Regions from separate parts of the Homo sapiens genome. Here region 1 is linked to region 2. The links come from fine-mapping of genetic effects on gene expression. Tissue or cell type: thyroid. Region 2 holds a variant in brackets; the other region holds the start of a gene. All regions are shown on one strand. Distances are between the middles of the regions.

Region 1 (8,924 bases), 43 kb after region 2:
CTGGAGAAACATCCAACCACGTTGCTTTGGGCCCACTCCCTAAGAGCTGGTGATAACTTAGACACACTGAATGTGATTCTTTCTGATTAAAAACTTGACTGGGTTTCCCTTCCTCAGTGAATTTTCATAGTTATTAAGGAGGGAGAACTAATTCCAAAAATGGGCCGCTCAGGAAGTTAAGGAATTGGTCCCTTCAAGAAAGATATGTTCCCATTCTATTATGTGTGAGGTACTCATGGTGCTGGGCACAGAGAGGGATATGGTGTGGAGGGCTCTGCCTTGGATTTTGAGGGTTTAAAGTAACCCCCAGGAAGAGTCTACAGAAACCCCATGAGCTTCCCCTTCTGAACACAGACATTAATTCTGACATGTGGAAGACTTTTGTCCATTGAACAGCTTTGTGCTCGCTCAGTGCCCAGACCACCTGCTTCCAAACCCTGGCTGTGCTGCTACCTGGGTGACTTTAGGCAATCCACTTGAACTCTCTGTGCCTCAGTTTCTCCATATGTAAAATGGGAATAACAATAATCTTAACCTATGTAATAGGGTTGTTAATATGTCTTATAGCAGTTTTAGAGCCACACATGGGCTTCCCCTCCTGTAAATGGAACTAAGAACAGTATCTACTTCCTAGAGCCGTGGCCAAGATTCCATGAGTTAATGCGAACAGGCAAAGCACTTGGAACAGTGGCTGGTATATATAGAAAGTACCAGATGCACTCTTACTACTGACATTAAAGAGCTATTGACAATTTGACTTTTTAGTTAATTTGCATTGATATCTTCACAGTTGGGCTGTTCTTGAAAGTTAGAAGAGCATTTCCTCCAAGAGACTTTCTCATTAAGAATTTCCGGCCAGGCAAGGTGGCTCATGCCTGTAATCCTAGCACTTTGGGAGGCCGAGGCAGGTGGATCACGAGGTCAAGAGATCGAGACCATCCTGGCCAACATGGTGAAACCCCGTCTCTACTAAAAAAATACAAAAATTAGCTTGGCATGGTGGCACGCACCTGTAGTCCCAGCTACTCAGGAGGCTGAGGCAGGAGAATCAGTTGAACCCGGGAGGCGGAGCTTGCAGTGAGCCGAGATCACACCACTGCACTCCAGCCTGGGCGACAGAGGGAGACTCCGTCTCAAAAAAAAAAAAAAAAAAAAAAAAAAGAATTTCCACTGACTCAGAGCAAAGGGCTCCTCCTCTCCATTATCACAGCACAGCTCAGGGAGACACTTTCTGATGGCTCCAGTTCTCTCCCTCCTGGGCTCAGCTTGATCCTGCTCGTGGGGCTCACACACACCCACTCATATGCATCTCCCAGCACCCCAGGAGAAGGCAAGCCAGGTAACATTGTTCCCACCTGATGGATACAGAAACTGAAGGTCCTGCAGCTTCCCAAAGGTCAAGTGTCATGTGCTTTGGGACAGGGGCTTAAGCCCAAACACCTGAGTCCCAGGCTCAGGATGGTATGGGAGCCGGGGATGTGGCTCTGGAGTCCCAGGTCCACCACTTTCCTTAAGCAAGTAACCTGGTGTCTTCATCTGTAAAATGAGGGTGATAACAGTACGTACTTCCTAGATTTGTTGCAACGATTGAATGAGTCAAAGCGTGTAAAGCACTAAGAACAGTGCCTGACATACCAGGGCACAACATTTGAGTGGCACAGTGCATCCTAGGTGGCCTGGCACAGTCTTGGTCTATGCCTGGTAGCCTGGCAAATCTTCCAGTTAGAGCCCCCCGTCACTCTTGAAAACATCCTGGTTTGGAAGAAAATTATATGGCCATCCTAACATAATTACCTGTTGCCATCTAAATTATTATCGTTGTTATTATTATTTTCCACCATACCATACTGAGTCTCCAGGAAGTGAATATGCTGGTTCAAAATAGGTCAGCACTTCAGTACCACCCTTAAACACAGGTGAGAGTGGCCCCTGCCCTGGGGACCCCCCCAGTCTGGCCCTCCTCCAGCTAACCTCTCATCACAAGGAGGGAAGACCATGGGACAAGGGGACATGCCCACCTGGAACTTGTGGCACCTCCACTAGAGCATACTCTGGGTGCCCAGGCCCCTGGGGTTCCCTGCAGAGATGGCCCTTAGCCCACTGCCAGGACCTGCGTGGGTCTCTTCCGCAGATCCAGCCCGAGGACAGAGTACACCACTGGCGTGCCCAGCCCTAAGCCTGAGGGGCTACCAAGGGGCTGAGCTTGCATGTGCAGGCTGAGATGTTCATGAATGTGCACAAGACTCTCGAAGGACAGGACAGAGGCAGAGGTAGGAAAAGGTAGGGGGCAGGGGCCCAGGCCAGGCACTAGGGGCCCCCTCTCCCTGTGCCACCAGCTCCAGGGCAAGGTCTGAGGAGTATGAGAATGCCACACTCAAAGCCAGCTTTCTGCCTTGTTAGGAAAGTGTATTTGTCAAGATAGAAGAATAGAACATAATTTATTTTGCATTTTGTTAGCTTGATTTATAGCCTGCAAATATTTGGACATATGGTATGTGAACCTCCATCTATACTCTTGCCCAGCCCCACAAATCCCTGCCACGTTCCACCCAGTCCCAATACCAAATGTTTACTGAGCCCTTCCTCTGTTCTGAGCCCAGGGGACCCCAGGGCACCATCCCAGCACCCAAACATGATGGCCTCTGTGGGAGCAAACTTCATACTCCAAAATCAGTGAAGAACTAAGATCAGGGGGTGAGGGCATAGACCTGGTCCTTGCCTCTGTTCCCAACCCCTAGGGAGGTGGGACAGGTGCCTCCCTTTCCGGGCCTTAGTTTTACTGTTTAGATAAGAGGTCCCTCTACCTGTGAGCAGCTGGGGGATGCAGCCTGGAGGATGAGTAGCACACAGAATCAGATCAGTGACCTGAGAGGGTGTGGCGTGGACTTGGGCAGACAATTCTTAGGGGTTACAGTGATGTGGAATTGAGCTCTCTGGACTAGCCAAGCACAGGCTGTTGCAGCCCATTCCATTCCATTCATTTATTCCTTCCACAAACATGGCAGGCACCGCCCTGTGCCCAAAACAAACAAGAGGCTGAATCTGCCTAGTATGGGAGGATAAATCGAACAAGCACATAGAAAACCAAATGCAAAGTAAGACTTGGTGAGTGAGCCAAGAGAGCTTCCCTAAACTCCTCCTGTCCTCCCAATCACAGCGTCTTAAGCCCACTTCCCGGATGAGAAAACGGAGGCTCAGAGTCAAGACCCTGCTGCCTGGGGCGCGCCCAGACCTTGTGGCTAGCCAGAAGCGAGGTTTCGGATTCCCACAGTCTCGGGCCACTGTCCCAAGCTGCCCAAAGCTGGGGAGGCCCCGTCCAGCTCCCGGAAGGCTGTAGGGAGGTGAGCGCCAGGGAGGGGCTGGGCCGCAGGACGCGGGGGCCAGGAGGCAGGGAGGGGCCGGGCGGGGGGCGGTCGGGAGACATCCAGCGCCCCGATGTGCAGCCCCAGGCACCCGGAGCGCCAGCGCCTGGGTGCGCGCGAGTGGTAGCCGCGCTCCGGTGGGTCCGCCGCGGTCGGACCGGGGTCTGGGCTCCAGGCGCCGGCGGGGGGCGGTGGGGGGGGTAGGGGGACAGCGAGGGCCGCGCTGCAGTGCCCGCAGCGGCGGGTTGGGGGAGCTGTGCCCGCCTGTCCCCTAGGCCCGGGCGGCGGCCGGGCAGCTGGGTCGCCGCGCCTCTAGCCGGGCCGGGCTCGGCGGCGCGCAGCCAGGCGTGCCTGGAGCGGGCTCGGGCCCCAAGTCCTCCGGAGCGCCCAGCCGGGGAGGCCCCGGGAGCAGCCCAGTCCCGCGGGCTAAGGCGGCAGCCGCCGCCGCTCCGGCCCGCCCCCGGGGGGGTGTCCCGGGCCGCTGGGCCCGCCCAGGTAACCCCATCCTCGGCCCGCCCCCGGCCCGCCCCCCCGGCCGCCCGCCCGCCCGCCCGCCTCCGCCGCCGCCGCCGCCGCCGCCGCCGCCGCATCCCGGCTCTGGGGCGGCGCTGACAGTCTGGTCCGCGCCGGGCAGCGGGCGCAGCAGCGGGCAGGCTGCCGGCAGGCACACGGAGGCAGAGCCCCGCCGCGCGCGCCCCGGCCCGCCCGCGGGCGCCCACCTGCAGCCCCGACGGGAGGCCCCCCGCGGCCGCAGCCGCTGCCCCGGGCCGGGCGCCCGCGGCGGCACCATGAGTCCCCGCTCGTGCCTGCGTTCGCTGCGCCTCCTCGTCTTCGCCGTCTTCTCAGCCGCCGCGAGCAACTGGCTGTAAGTCTGGCCGGGGCCGAGCGGGGCGGGGCGGGGCGGGGCAGGCCCCGGGGGCAGCGGCCGGTGCCAGGCGGCGCGGGGCAGCGGGCGCGGGGCAGCCCGGCAGGTGTCTCGGCCGCGGGACCGGAGGCTCGCTCGCTCCGCTGCCGCCGCCACGGCCCGAACGTCCCTCTGCACACCCGGGGTCCCCTCCTGCCCGGGTCCGGCTCCCTGCCCAGAGGCGTCAGGGGTGGCTGTGGCGGCGTCCGCACCGGTAGGCGGCTCGGGGCTCTCGAGGGCGCCAGGGGTGCGAGCGCGGGGCGGTGGCCCGGGAGGGGCGCCGGACGCGGGTTGCAGTCCAGCCGGGCTGACAGGTCGCTGAGGAAGCCCATTGCAGGGAAGGGCTCCGGGACATAATAGCAGGTTAATCCCGAGAAGTCCGGAGCGAGCTCCCAGCGCCGAGCTGCGCCGAGCTGCGCCGCGCTGCGGGCTGGGCTGGAGGCGTGCAGGGACCTGTTTCTGCTTGGGGGGCGGGAGCCGGAGACAGAAGGAAGGGACCAGGACGCCTGGTCTCCCAGGGCCCGGGGCTGGCGCTGGCGCTGGCCGGGCCTTGGTTTTTCCCCGGGGCAGGAAGAAACTCCGTCCAGACCTTAAAGAAGACAACGGCCCCCCAGCTCCCCGTGTCTAGCCTAAGGAGGAAGGGGTGGTAACCGCTGGTGACCTGTCTGTTTCTCCTTGACTGGATCTGCGCTCAGGGCGCTCCCTGGGTAGGGGCGGAAGGTTTGCTGCAGGGAGGGAGACTAAAGGGATGAGCTCCAGTGAGTGGGTGGACAGGGAGCAAGCGGACCCGCGCTCCTTTCATCCCCGCTCAGGGACAGTTCCCCATGCCCCGCGCTTAACCCTGGCCCCAGTTCCTCCTGCCCAGAGCTCTGCCACCATCCGCTGTGGGCAGCCAGTGGGGAGCCAAGCTCCAATATTGATCTGAAAAGCATGGGGTGGGAAGGGGGATCGCCAACAGTGTAGCTGGGGTTTCCATGGAGACAGGGAGAGAGGAAAAAATTCTCTCTGCATCAAGACCAAAGAACAAATATCTCCCATGAAATTGCCCCGAGTGTCCAATGGCTGTTGCTATGAGGTCATTGTGGCCAGCCAGAGCCCTCCAGGCTGGAAGGAGTGTGTTCGTTGGGGTCAGAGCCACCCAGGGCTTGGGGGACGGAGGTGATGTGGAATTCTCCCAGCTGTTCCGAGAGCAAACGACTCCAAGGCAGCCCGAAGTGGCTGCGGAGCTTTTGTTTTTCTTGGAGCCTTAATTTGATTAACACTTCAGGAGCAGTGGCAGAGTGTACAGAAAGCAAGGCACCACCACCTTCTCCCACTGCCCCCCTGCAGGCCACCCCCTGAATGGAGCCTGGGTCACAGAGCTGGGGAGGGAGCTGATTTGGACTTGGAGGACCCTGGGTGTCCCTGGAGCTGGTTCTTGAATGCATGGGTTCAGAGCGGGGGCCTCCAAAACAGATCTGAGCATCAGAAGGAGCAAGAACTGTGTCTCACCTGCCCAGCACCGCCAAAGCCACAAAAAACAAACAAACAAACAAAAAACAAAGAAAAAAAAGTGGCAGTCCAAGCGTCTGGCCCAGGCCTACATGGAAGACAGCGACATCTGCAGTGGAAAGTCCTTCAGGAACATCTCATCTTTGACTCAGATGAGGAAACTGAGGCCTAGGGAGTGGAAGCTACTTGCCCAAACTCAGAGCTGAGAACTGAACCCAGGTGTTCTGACTCCCAGGCAGTGACCCTATACCCCCTTCCCTGAAGCTGTCCCAAAGTGGAGCCAGCATGGCCCGGTGGCATCACCACTCACCTTCACCCATGTCCACCCCCAGAATCCCAGCCAGGAAGGCAGCCTCGGCTTTGGATCATGCAAACTGTGGGGAATTCCAACAACTCAGTTCTCCTGCCTGTGCTGTTGGGGGTGGGGTGAGGAGGGGCAGCCTAGGAGAAGAGAGGTTGGCAAACCTGTTCTCTGCAACGGTGATGGTTCAGGTTGCCACGAAGCAGGTCTCTGGATGACCCAGCTCACTCCTGCTCCACCCCCGGCTTCAAGCCAAGGGTCTCTCTGCTCCACCCAAGGCAAGAGGAACAAGAGGCTTCCCAGGACCCTCCCAAACCAGAGAGGCTATGAAGGAGAAGACACTGGGCACATACCAAGGTTGGTCCAATATTTATCAACCTCTGTCGAACAATCAGCTGGCCAGGAATGGCAGCTCTGGGGGAAATGGATGTCACAGCCTGGCCTCCCACAAGCCTGGAGTCTAGGTAGAAAGACATGATAAAACCACGACTGGGTGGAACAGGGCACATGCTCTATGGCTGTCAGAGGAAAGAGCTGAGTGTGAGCCCGAGCAGGCACAGAGGGGGACTTGGTCTGAAGACTGTATGATCATGACAATAATAATTATTATGATGACTCCCACAGCATGATCTAAATCCCAACAACGTTTCAATCCCGTTACAGATGAGAAGATTGGGGATCGCAGAGGTAACTGCCCAAGTCACCCAGCTGGTAAATGCCAGAGGTGTCCGACTGAAAAGCTGCCTCTAGAAGGAAAAGCTTCGGGGAGGCAGGTGTCCATGCAGGCATGATGGCTGGCACTGTGTCTTTTCAAGTGTGAGGTATGAGGAGGCCTGGCCCCGAGAGGATAGCTGACAGCACCTGCCAAGGAGCAAGGTCTAGGTTCCGCTCGCCTCCCAATACCCTGGAGTCCAGGGTGGGTCTGCTGGCCAGTGGCGAGAGCCAGGACTATCTGTTGTCTCAGAAGGGCAGGTGGCCTGGTGGGGAGGCCAGGTGTCCCGCCGCGTGCAGCTGTTGGGCAGGATGGAGCCTGGAGCTGGGAGGGCAGCCTGAGGCCTGGGCAGGCCCAGAGAAGCTGGGAGCTGTTGATTAGACTCTCGTCTGGCACCCGGAGGAGCCCGCTGACAGCTTGTGACGGCTCCCACCACTGAGGGAGGGCCCGATGGATGAAGAGTCCCTGGGGGAAGGCTGGGACTCTGCCCTTAAGGAGGCTGCCCTGCCACGGACCTGAGCTCAGAAATGTTTCTAATGTCCCCTCTTCCCTGCACTGAGGCTGTACCGGGAGTCAGGATACCTGGGTTCCAGTCCCAGCTCTGGGCCACATATTGGGTGTCCCCTTCCTCCCTTGGGGCCACAGTCCTCAGCAGATCGTTCTGAACCCCAAATGGAAGTGCTGGGGAGGGTTAGGGAATAAATAAGCTAAGGTTTCAGGACTGTGGATTTCTGAGGAAAGTAGTGGGGTAGCGGGGTTCTAGCAGAATCCCACGGGTGAGGGGAGGGGGACCACGCTGCACTCAGAGGCAGGCCGGCGGCATGGCCAAGAAGTGGGTCTTTGAGATCCAACCGAGCTCTGCCCTGCCCAGCTGAGTGACCTTGGACAGGTTATTAACCTCTCCGAGCCTCGGGTTTCTCATCTGTAAAATGGAGCCCACTGATGCAAATGGTGCACAATGGTGGTTGGGAAGAAAGAGCGAGCCCATGCGTGTGGCAAGCTGGCACTGGGCCAGGCACGCTGATGGAAATGGCAGCCCTGGCAGCTGCCGGAAGCAAGGGCTGCTGTCAGGGAGCTGCAGGGCTGCGTCCCTATTGATAGGGGTGGTGGAGAAAACGGGCCTTCAGGCTGCTGCTCCCAAGCCCTGTTTATCCCAGGCTGTCCCACCCAGATCCACTGATTTAACACAGGTAGGATCCTAGGCTGCAACCCCCTTGCTCAACAAGGGCCCCCGCAGGAGCCTCCCAGAGTCAGGAAGACCTAGCCTGGCTCACAAGCCAATCTTGCCAGGCAGAGGAGTTGCTGCTGGGAGCACCTTTCCGTGCCCTGGGGGCAGTGAAGGACGCATCATGCTTTCCATTGGCTTTGAGTCCCCACTGGTGTGCGACTTCCGGCCAAGCTCCCCTGAGCCTGCTTGCCCGGGGGCCGGGGGACAGTTTATATCTCCCTTGGCCTTGGGTGGAGTGAAGCCCAACACTCTGGGCACAACTCCCTGGGGCAGGGATGGGGCACGGCCAGCCCAGATGTGCAGTGCCAACCACACAGGTAAAGATGTGGCCCACCTCCTCCAGGAAGTGTGCCCTTGATTCCCAGCTTTAAAAGATCCCTCTCTCCCCTCTAAATAGTCAAAAATCCGTCTCCTTAGAGCTCCTCCGTGGCTCTGGGCAGTGAATTACAATCACAAACACCCCCACAGTACTTCACAGTTTACAGCAGGATTTCTCAGCCTCCGTATCACTGGTATTTGGGACTGGATGAGTCTTCTGTCTGGGTCTCTTCTGTGCATTGCGGGATACTTAGCAGCATACCTGACCTTTACCGGCTAGATAGCCAGTAACATCCCCCCAAGCGAAAGGACAAAATGTCTGCAGACTTTGCCAAATGTCCCCTGGGGGGCGGGCAAAATCATTCCCCCAGGAATCAATGGTTGGCAAAGATCTTTCACAACCATTACCCATTTGAACCACACACCATCCCCTCCATGCCTCACCACAACCACTTTCAGAGGACAGGAGTGTAGATTACTTTCAGCCCCACTTCAGAGGCCCAGACGTGCAATGACTTCCCCAAGGTCATCCTGCAAATCAGAAGCAGGACTGGAACTGCTCTCCCATGTCCAGATTTTACAGCTTTCATCCCCTGCCTATAGAACCG
Region 2 (10,040 bases):
CCCCAACCTGTGCCCCGGCCCACTAGACTCTGCTATCGCCCAGGACTCAGCACCTACTAAACACCAGGAGAGCCCTACAGGAGACTCTGCTGAATGAGAACGGGCCCGTCCTCCATCTGCCCAGATGCCCAAGTCTCCTGCTCAAACAAGCAGGTTGGAGACTGACGGGAGCAAGGCTCAGCCTTGACCCTTCCCCATTCTGGTGCTCCTGTCCCCTTCATGTCCCAGGGCCAGCTGCCAAGGCTGGGGAAGAAGGTGCGATGAGTCCTGATGGGGCAGCTGAGGGGCTCCTAGGCTGCCTGGTCTGAGCAGGGACCAGCCTCCTTGGGAGGTCAGGTCTCTGTGACCCTGGAAGGTGAGTTGGCTCCCACCACTCCCACAGAGGAATGAAGAAAAGGAGTTGAGCCCAGTGCCAATTCAAGGACAAGACAGGATTAGATTCATGCCTTACGTGGATTGTCCTTTGCAAATCCTTGGTCAAACTGGGATATTCCCCACACCCCCTTTTTGCACCCTTCCTCAAATTAAGTCCCAGAAACAAGGTTCTGTCTCCAGCCATGCCTGTGGGTTTGTCCTTTAGTAATAATAAGAACAACAGTGGCTCCCTCTTAAATTGCAACAGCTCTGGACCAGGATGACAGCCAATGAAAAAGTCCATAGATGTAGTGGTTAGGAGCATGAACCATGCAGCCAGATGGTCTGGGTTCAAATCCTGACTCTGCCACTCACCAGCTGCAGGACCTTGGAGAGCTACCTAACCTCTCTGAGTCTCGATTTCCTCATCTGTGAAATGGGGCCTGAATAGTACCAAGAATAGTCATGAGGCTTAAACGAGTTTGCACATGTGAAGTGTTAGAACAGGGCATGGCATACAGTAAGTGCTCAAGGAGCGCTCACCCCTAAGGGTTTTAAGTCCTGTCCTCTGGAACGAGAAAGGATCCCTTTTTGTTACCAGGAGACTGAGGCCTGAGGGACATGGCCACCTCCAAGATGGCACAGGTAGCTCAATCTCTCAATAGCCATATACGAGGGCCTCCTGAGTGTCAGGGCCCATGCTGGATACTGGAGCACCACGCTGCACCAGAACTCATCCCAGAAGTGCTCAACCAGTTGGGACTCAGTGGAAGAACCCAGGTCTCTGAGTTGGAAGCTGGGACCACAGCCCAGCTGGCCCTGGTGATACGGAAGCTGCAGTCCGAGGTCGAGCATTTTTGGTATTCCAATTACTCTCCAGCCAAGCTCAGCTCTGCAAGCTCATGGGACCCAGCCAGCAAATCCTCTGTGCAACGCACACCTTGGCAAGCACCTGCCGAGCGCCCAGCACTCAAGGAAGAAGCCAAGGTGCTGTGCCATGATCCCACCTTTAAGGAAGTCCTCTGTCCTCCACATCCCTCCTGGCTCCTTCCCCAAGACAATGGAAGCAAGATAACACCCACGAAAGCCCCAGGCCAAGGTGGGCGCACAGTAGGCACTTTGTCAATTGTCATCCATTTACCGTGAGGAACACCTCACTGGACAAGTGCAAAGATCTGACTTTATCTGTGCAGAGGAAAATATGCTCAGAATAGGACAGGGCCACAGATAACTCAGCATGCCTGACACTGACCAATCAGTGGCCTCTCTCCACGATACCTGCTGTCTCACCTTCCTGGCTGTGTGCTCTGATGGGACAGACTCTGAAATGGGATCCAGGCACTTGGGCTAGAGTCTTGGCTTTGCTGGTAAATCCATTTGAGACCTTAGACCTCCTGTCCCTGTGGGTAAAACAAGAGATTTAGACTGTTTGTGAGCTCTTACAGCCACTGGGTCTCCAGTCCACATTCACTGGGGCCATTCTCACTCTGTGCCAGGCCCTGGGCTCTATCCCACCATGCTGGAGGGGAGCTCCTGTGCTGGGGACACATGGAGCAGAGTCACTGGGTCAATCCTGGAGGACCTGCTGGAGGAGGTGATACCTGGACTGAGTCTTACAGGATGAATAGGAGTCGAGTGGGTGAAAGAATGAGGATTCCACCTCGTAGCACTGAGCAGTCGCAGTGGACCAGTGTGACTTAGAGAAAGCACTGTGGCAATTTGTGAAGGAAGAACTGGAGGGGGTGCCTGGAGTCCAGGGTTAGGGGCAGGCAGAGGGATCCTGATAGACTCTGAAGGTCATTACAGAATAATGTTCTGTCCAGAATGTTCTGGACTGAAGGCTGGGGAGTCCTCAGGCGGTAGCTGGTAGCTGAGGCCATGGTAGACAAGACTGTCAAGAAAGAGCATGTGGGGAGAGGCATAGGCAGCAGGGAAGGGAAGGAGGAGAGTGAGCGCCAGAGCAGAGAGTGGAGGCGCAGAGCAGGCACAGCTCCTGAGGCCACACACAGGAAGACAAGGATCCAGAAGGTCTGGCCACCGCATATCCCCCCTTAGCACAGCCTGGACACAAGGCAGGTGCTCAACAAATGTTCGGGTTTTTAAAAATCCTTTAAATGGAAAGATTAAGAAAACCCAGGAGAGGCCGGGCATGGTGGCTCATGCCTGTAATCCCAGCACTTTAGGAGGCTGAGGTGGGGAGATCACTTGAGGTCAGGAGTTCAAGACTATCCTGGCCAACACGGCGAAACCCCGTCTCTACTAAAAATACAAAAATTAGTCGGGCATGGTGGCGCATGCCTGTAGTCCCAGCTACTCAGGAGGCTGAGGCAGAAGAATCACTGGAACCTGGGAGGCGGAAGTTGCAGTGAGCCGAGATCGCACCACTGCACTCCAGCCTGGGTGATGGAGCAAGACTCCGTCTCAAAAAAAAAAAAAAGAAGGAAAACCCAGGAGAGGTGGAGGAAAGTAAAGCCTAGGAGAAAAGCGGACTGTGAGGAGGAGGGGCAACCCCCAGCATCAAGGCTACTAAGAGGTCAGAACCACTGGGTTCTGCTCACAGAGGTCCTGGTCACCGTGGAAGGATGCGGGATGGGGAGACGGACCTCAGGACTAAGGGGCGACTGGCAAGTGCAGACATGGAAAGAGTGAGTGCGGAAAACTCTAGACCTTTTGATGAAAAATAGACAAGGAAGAGGAAGGAGAATGGAGTGGAAGAGAAGGGGCTGGAGGAAGGGGAGGGGAGAGGGAAAGGAGAGGCAGAGGAAGAACAGTGGCTAGAAGGGCAATGTGAGCCAGGGAAGGATTTAAACCCTAAACTGGGTATGTGGTGAGTGATCTCAGGTGAGTCAAGTCACCTGCTGAGCCTCATTTTCCCAAGCGTAAAATGAAGGGAAATAGCCCCCACCTGAAAAGTTACTGGGAGCATCCAGCGTTACCTATACAAAGCATCTAGCACAGTGCCTGGCAGGCCACAGGTCCCCAGAGAATGTGTCCTTGTCATCCTCTCGCCAGAGCCCTATGCCACCTCAAGAGTAGCAGGACACTCATTATCAAAGCATTATCCCCATTTTACACATGAAAAACTGAGTCACAGACTTGTCTCTACCTTCTCAGCCCCGCCACCCCCCACCCCAAACACACAGGGCAGCATCTGTTCCTCACTGGTGTGGGAAAGGTGAATGTGGCCCAGGGCCTGGCATGAGAAACATTTGTTGATTGAATGAATGAGACAGCCAGGCACAGTGGCTCACACCTGTGATCCCAGCACTTTGGGAGGCCAAGATGGGAAGATCACCTGAGCCCAGGAGTTTGAGACTAGCCTGGGCAACATAACGAGAACCCCGACTCTACAAAAAAATAAATAAATAAAAATTAGCCAGGTGAGGCCAGGCATGGTGGTTCACGCCTGTAATCCCAGAACTTTGGGAAGCCAAGGGCAGGTTGATCACTTGAGGTCAAGAGTTGGAGACCAGCCTGGCCAACATGGTGAAACTCCATCTCTACTAAAAATACAAAAAAATGTAACTGGGCGTGGTGGCACATGCCTGTAGTCCCAGCTACTCAGGTGGCTGGGACAGGAGAATCACTTGAACCCGGGAGGGGGAGGGTGCAGTGAGCCAAGATGCACCCCTGCACTCCAGCCTGGGCAACAGAGCAAGACTCCATCTCAAAAAGAGAAAAAAATTAGCCAAGTGTGGTGGAGCGTG[T/C]CTGTAGTCCCAGCTACTCAGAAGGCTGAGGCGGGAGAATCACTTGAGCTGGGGAAGTTGAAGCTGCAGTGAGCCATGATTACCCCACTGCACTCCAAGCCTGGGTGACAGAACAAGACCTTGTCTCCAAAAAAAAGAACGAATGGGACAGACATAGAAACCAGGGAAAGCCTGCCCTGGCCTGGTGGCCACAGCGTCGCAAAATAAAAAGAGCCTGGAAGGTAATCAGTCAGAGCCAGGAATTTGGGTCTTGGAGGCCCATCAGAGTCAGCCATATGAGCCACAGGAAACACCTGGTTCAGGGATTCTCACACTGGAGTGTCTGGTTAGGTTCACCCGGAGAACTTGTGTCCTGGGCCCCACCCTAGACCCACTGAATCAAGTATAAGGGGGCAGGAGTCCAGGAATCTGCACTTTCTACCCGGCACTCAGGTGTTGCTGATGCCAGTGGCCTGTGGGTCATGCCCCTATTTTATAGAGAAGAGGACCACCTATGAGATCACATGGCAAAGCCCTACAGGGCCTGACCGATCACCTGGGGATCCAGGCTGCAAGCCACTGTCACTTCTGGTGCCTGCAGGTGCCCTGGGAGTGGTAGGCAAGGAAAGGAACCACAGCAGGGAAGAAAGATGAGAAAAGGCAGGATAATGGCTCCCATCTAATACACACCAGTACTAGGTGCCTATGTTCACGTCATCAGCCCCCCTTCAAAACTATATGGTGAGTTTTATTATTACGTCCATTTTTCAGGTGAGGTGAATAGTGTTCAAGAGGTAAAGCGGATTGCCAAAAACCTCACCACTGGTAGGTGGCAGGATGTGAAACCTGGTCTGTCTGGGGTGCTAGAGCTGACTTCCTTAACCACCTGGCACACTGCTTCCCGGAGAAGCAAGGAGAAGAGGAAGAAGGAGGAGAGGAGAGAAAAGGAGAGGGCCCCAGTGGAGGGAGGAGGTGGGGCCTGCATGGAGAGGGGACGGTGTGCCCTCATTGCCCACCCAGGTGGCTGAGCCAGGCTGGCTGCTCAGGGCGGAGAGTGCCTGCCTGTCCCGGTGCCCTGCGGTTGCCATGCCGACCCCCAGGCTGTGTTTGCGGATGTTGTATTTGATTTCACACGTTTGGAACTCCGATTACGTCATTTCGCAACACAGGGTTGCCATGACAGCCGGCCCCATGTTCCCTGGGTAGCTCACACCTTGGGGGAAAGGGAGGGGCCCGGGCCTCTCCCCCAACCAAACCTCAACCCTGAGCCCCCTCGGGGAGAGAGGCCAGGAATGTGGGGTTGGGAAGCACCTTGGGATCAATCAACGTCTACATTTGGGGAAACCAAGGTCTGGGTGGTGAGCCAGCTCCCCAGGCAACGCACCGCCTGTTGATGGAGGCTTTGCACACCTGGCTGCACACGGCTGAGGGCCTGACAACTGGCACCCAGCGACCAGCCTGGCCATCTGCCCTGACTGGCTCTCTGGGGCCTCAAAGTAGCTGCTGTCCTGGTCCATATGTGACTTTCCACAAACTCACAAGTGTCTGGGCCAGTGTGGGGGCGGGCTGGTTGGCTGAGAACACCAGCTTTGGCGTCAGACTTAGGTGCAAATGGTGGCCTCACACTAACCAAGCGTGCACCCTGGAACCTCGCTGAGCTTCCGCTTCCACATCTGAAAATGATGATGAAGGTACTTATCCCTTCAGGTGGCTGGGAAGAGTCACCTTAGCACACAGCGACCTAGCACAAAGTAGATACAATCAATAGTGAGAGTTGGGGCTTCTTCTATTTTCTTTCTTTCTTCTTTCTTTCTTTCTTTTTTTTTTTTTTTTAAGCTGAGTTCTGGCTTTTGTTTTGCCACCAGCCTGCACTGTGTGACTGTGGGCCACTGACCTTCCCTCTCTGGTCCTCTCAACTAGTAATAATGTGATAATCTTTCTCCACTTCTCACTTCCCTACCATTAAACTCTCCACCCCTTGTCCCTAAATTACAATTATTTAGCATCTTATATCCTGGCTTCCATCTATTGGGTAATGTCAAACAGAAGGGCTTCTGGACTTAGTCTGGAAACCTCAGTCTAATGTCACTAAGTCCCAGCTTCTTCTCTACAAGCTGCTAAAGAGACATATACATAGACATGCTTCTGTATCTATTCTGACACCTGTCCATCTGTGTGTTTATATGTACACATATATATAGATAAATCACAGATTCATACAGAGAGGTATTTGTGATTTCAGTTCAACCTCAGAAGGTCCCTTTATTTTTGAGATGGAGTCTCGCTCTGTAGCCCAGGCTGGAATGCAGTGACACAATCTCAGCTCACTGCAACCTGTGCCTCCCAGGTTCAAGCAATTCTGCCTCAGCCTCCTAAGTAGTTGGGATTACAGGTATACGCCACCACACCCAGCTAATTTTTGTATTTTTAGTAGAGATGAGGTTTCACTATGTTGGCCAGGCTGGTCTTGAACTCCTGACCTCAGGTGATCCACCAGCCTTGGCCTCCCAAAGTGTTGGTATTACAGGAGCCACCGTGCCCAGCCACAGAAGGTCCCTTCTTATTATACCTCTCCACTTTCCTTTTTCTTTGCATTCTTTTTAATTAATACTATTTTTAATTGGCATCTCATGATTGTATACATTTATGGTCAGGGGTCCCGTCTATCTGTAAATTGGGACTGGCCATTCTTCTCCACCTCTATGTTATGAAGCTCCCAGGGTAGATGACCAAGCCTCTCAAAAGGACACAGGACTTTTCATCAGCTATCCTGTCACAGCTATCCTTGCAAAGGATCTGCCCACAGAAATCCAAGAGACGGGAAACTAGTTAAATGCCCATTTGGGGCCAGGTCAGGTGGCTCATGCCTGTAATCCCAGCATTTTGGGAGGCAGAGGGAGGAGGACTGCTTGAGTCTAGGAGTTCAAGACCAGCCTGGGGAACCAAGTGAGCCCTCATCTCTACAAAAAAAAAAAAAAAAAATCAAAAAATTAGCCAGCAGGATGGCACGTGCCTGAGATCCCAGCTACATGGAAGGTTACATGGGAGGAGGATGGCTTGAGCCCCCCAGAGCCTCAGGGAGGAGTATCCTTGAAGAGATCACATGGCTCCTCCCAGGTAGCCTCCCAGGTAGAAAGGTCAATGCTGCAGTGAGCTATGGTAGTGCCACTGCACTTCAGCCTGGGTGACAGAGCAAGACTCTGTCTCTGTTTTTCACAAAATAAATAAATAAATAAATACCCATTCTGTAGATGTCGAAAATAAAATGAGAACCAGAGAGGGTACAGGAGTTGCCCACGATCTTAGCAACTGGTGAATGGTAACTCTAATCCTTTCTGCCAAACGCACACCCTCAAACACCGTCCCGGAAAATGTGAGGAGTTACTCCCAATAAGGAGGGCCGTACCCCTGGGCAGCCGTCACAGGTCACAGCTGAGGGCTTCCTGGGATGACCACAGAGACCTGCCCACTGCCCCTGCTGCCGCCCAGCGCCCTGCCCCGCCCCCACCACCCTGGATGCTTCCCCAGACCCGGAGCCAGGACCAACATGAGCTGTTTTCCCTTGATGCCGCCTCCAACTTGCATGTGCTCGAGTTTACTGGAAAAATCAAACACTGCCACATGTGCACAGACATGCACTGGGCGGGGGCCATTCAGCCCAGTCCAACCCAGCACGTCTTTCTGGGGCTCAGCTTTGGCCCGGAGCAGAGCACAAGTTTGGGAGTCTGACTGGCCTGGGTTCGAGCCCTCACTCTTCTACTGTGATGCTTTGTGATCCCAGTCCCTTAACCCTCTTAGCTGCAGCTTCCTCAAACGTAACATGGAAATGACAACGCTCACTTCAGAGTTGTCAGATGAACGACAGGACACAGCAGGCTCGAGAGTGCCTGGCACAAATTTGCCCACTGAGTGTCCGCTCCTGCCCTTCCTCCAGGGAACAGAACTGAGGCCACAGTCCTTACAACAAAGGAGCTTTTTTTTTTTTTAGACGGAGTTTCAATCTTGTCACCCAGGCTGGAGTGCCATGGCATGATCTCAGTTTACTGCAACCTCCGCCTCCCCAGTTCAGGTGAATCTAACCAAGGAGGCTTTTTATGAGCTCGTCCGAGAGCCAAGACTAATCTTCATGAGAGAATTGAAGATAAGACAGGGGAACAATCAAGTGCTAACATGGTGCTTCCGATGGGTTGCAAGAGATTGTGAGCTCAGAGGAGGCGGATGTCATTGTAGGCTGGAAGAAGGCAGGAAGGACTTCCTGAAAGAAAAGGAGAGAAGTTGAAGGAGTTCCCAGAGACAGCCATGCAAGCAAATCATTGCAGAACAGCCAGATGTGTGCAGTAACAGATACAGCTGGAAAGAAACAGCGTAAGGAGAGAAAAGACAGCTTTGTGAGAGCATCACAGAGAAGTCTTTGGACTTCTAGAGACTTAGAGGATGAATGGGCTGGACACAGGAGAGAAGGCAGAGATGTCATGTAGCGGTGTCAGGAGAGAAGGCAGAGATGAGCATGTAGGTGGAGAGAAAGGCACAGGGGTGTGAAACAGCCCAGAGCACTGGAGGAATGACTGAGCCAAAAAGAGGGAGGTGGCTGGGAAGACAGGCAGGGGGCAGATCAGGGAGGGTCTTGAATGCCAGGCTAAGAGGCTTAGAATTAATGCCATAGGCCATGGGGAACCATGGAGGGTTCCATGGAAAGAAATGACACGAACAGATTTGAGGTTTAGAAAAGCACTCTGATGAAGAGGGAGTTAGGCTATGGATGGTGAGAGTGAAATTGGAGGCAGGAAACCCAGAAAGAAGGTTCTCCATTGGTCCCACTGAGAGTCAACTACTATGAAAGAGAAAAGGAATGAATTTGAGATCATTTAGAAAGTAAAATTGCAGCCAGGCACGGTTGTTCATCACCGTAATCCCAGCATTTTGGGAGGCCAAGGCAGGCAGATCACCTGAGGTCAGGAGTTGAGACCAGCCTGGCCAACATGATGAAACCCTGTCTCTACTAAAAAAAAAAAAAAAAAAAAAAAAATACAAAATTAGCTGGGCATGATGGTGGGCACCTGTAATCCCAGCTACTTGGGAGGTTGAGGCAGAAGAATTGCTTGAACCCAGGAGGCAGATGTTGCAGTGAGTCGAGATCACACCACTGCACTCCAGCCTGGGCAACAGAGTGAGAATCCTTCTCAAAAAAAAAAAAAAAAAAAAAAAGGAGTTCTAGACCAGCCAGGCCAACATGAAAAAACCCCGTCTCTACTAAAAATACAAAAATTAGCTAATTAGCTGGGCATGGTGGCGGGCACCTGTAGTCCCAGCTACTCAGGAGCTGAGGCATTAACAATCACCCAAACCCCGGAGGCGGAGGTTGTAGTGAGCTGAGATCGTGCCATTGCACTCCAGCCCGGGCAACAGAGTGAGTGAGACTCCATCACAAGGAAAAAAAAAAAAAAGTAAAATTGCTAGATCTTGTTTTAATTGTTGTAAAATAAAATTTACCATTTTAACCTTTTTAAGTGTACAGTTCCTGCAGCAGCAAGTACATTCCCATTGTGCAACCATCACAGCACCCACCTCCAGAACGTTTTCACAGCTGAAACTCTGTACAAATTAAATGCGAACTCCGCAACCCCTGGTAATACCATTCCGCTTCATCTCTATGAATTTGACTACTCTAGGTACCTTGTGTAAGTGGAATCATACAGTATTTGCCTTTTTGCGTCTGGCTTATTTCACCCAGCACAGACAGTGTCTTTAGGGTTCATCCATCATGCGACATGTGTCAGAATTTTCTTCCTTCTTCTTTTTTTTTTTTTCTGTGTGTGTGTGTGAAACAGAGTCTCGCTCTGTCACCCAGGCTAGACTGCAGTGGCGTGATCTCGGCTTACTGCAACCTCCGCCTCCCAGGTTCAAGCGATTCTCCTGCCTCAGCCTCCCAAGTAGCTGGGACTACAGGTGCCCGCCACCACGCCCGGCTAATTTTTTGTATTTTTAGTAGAGACAGGGTTT

Evidence for each region. PIP is the estimated chance that this variant, and not a neighbour inherited with it, causes the effect.
Region 1: WNT4 starts here. The variant in region 2 is fine-mapped to the expression of WNT4 in thyroid (GTEx, PIP above 0.99).

What each region holds. Positions count from the first base shown.
Region 1 is chr1:22,138,149-22,147,072 of GRCh38, reverse strand. WNT4 (Wnt family member 4) reads left to right here and starts at 3,976. Exons shown (of 5, transcript NM_030761.5): 1 at 3,976-4,227. The coding sequence starts at 4,151. LOC105376845 (a long non-coding RNA gene) reads right to left here and starts at 6,120. Exons shown (of 5, transcript XR_947050.1): 1 at 6,068-6,120. RefSeq lists silencers at 3,557-3,886, 4,449-4,508 and an enhancer at 7,562-8,516.
Region 2 is chr1:22,180,540-22,190,579 of GRCh38, reverse strand. No RefSeq gene overlaps it. Among named protein-coding and RNA genes, the nearest start is that of WNT4, 42 kb to the right of the region's middle. The variant T/C (reference allele first, on the strand shown) is at 4,062.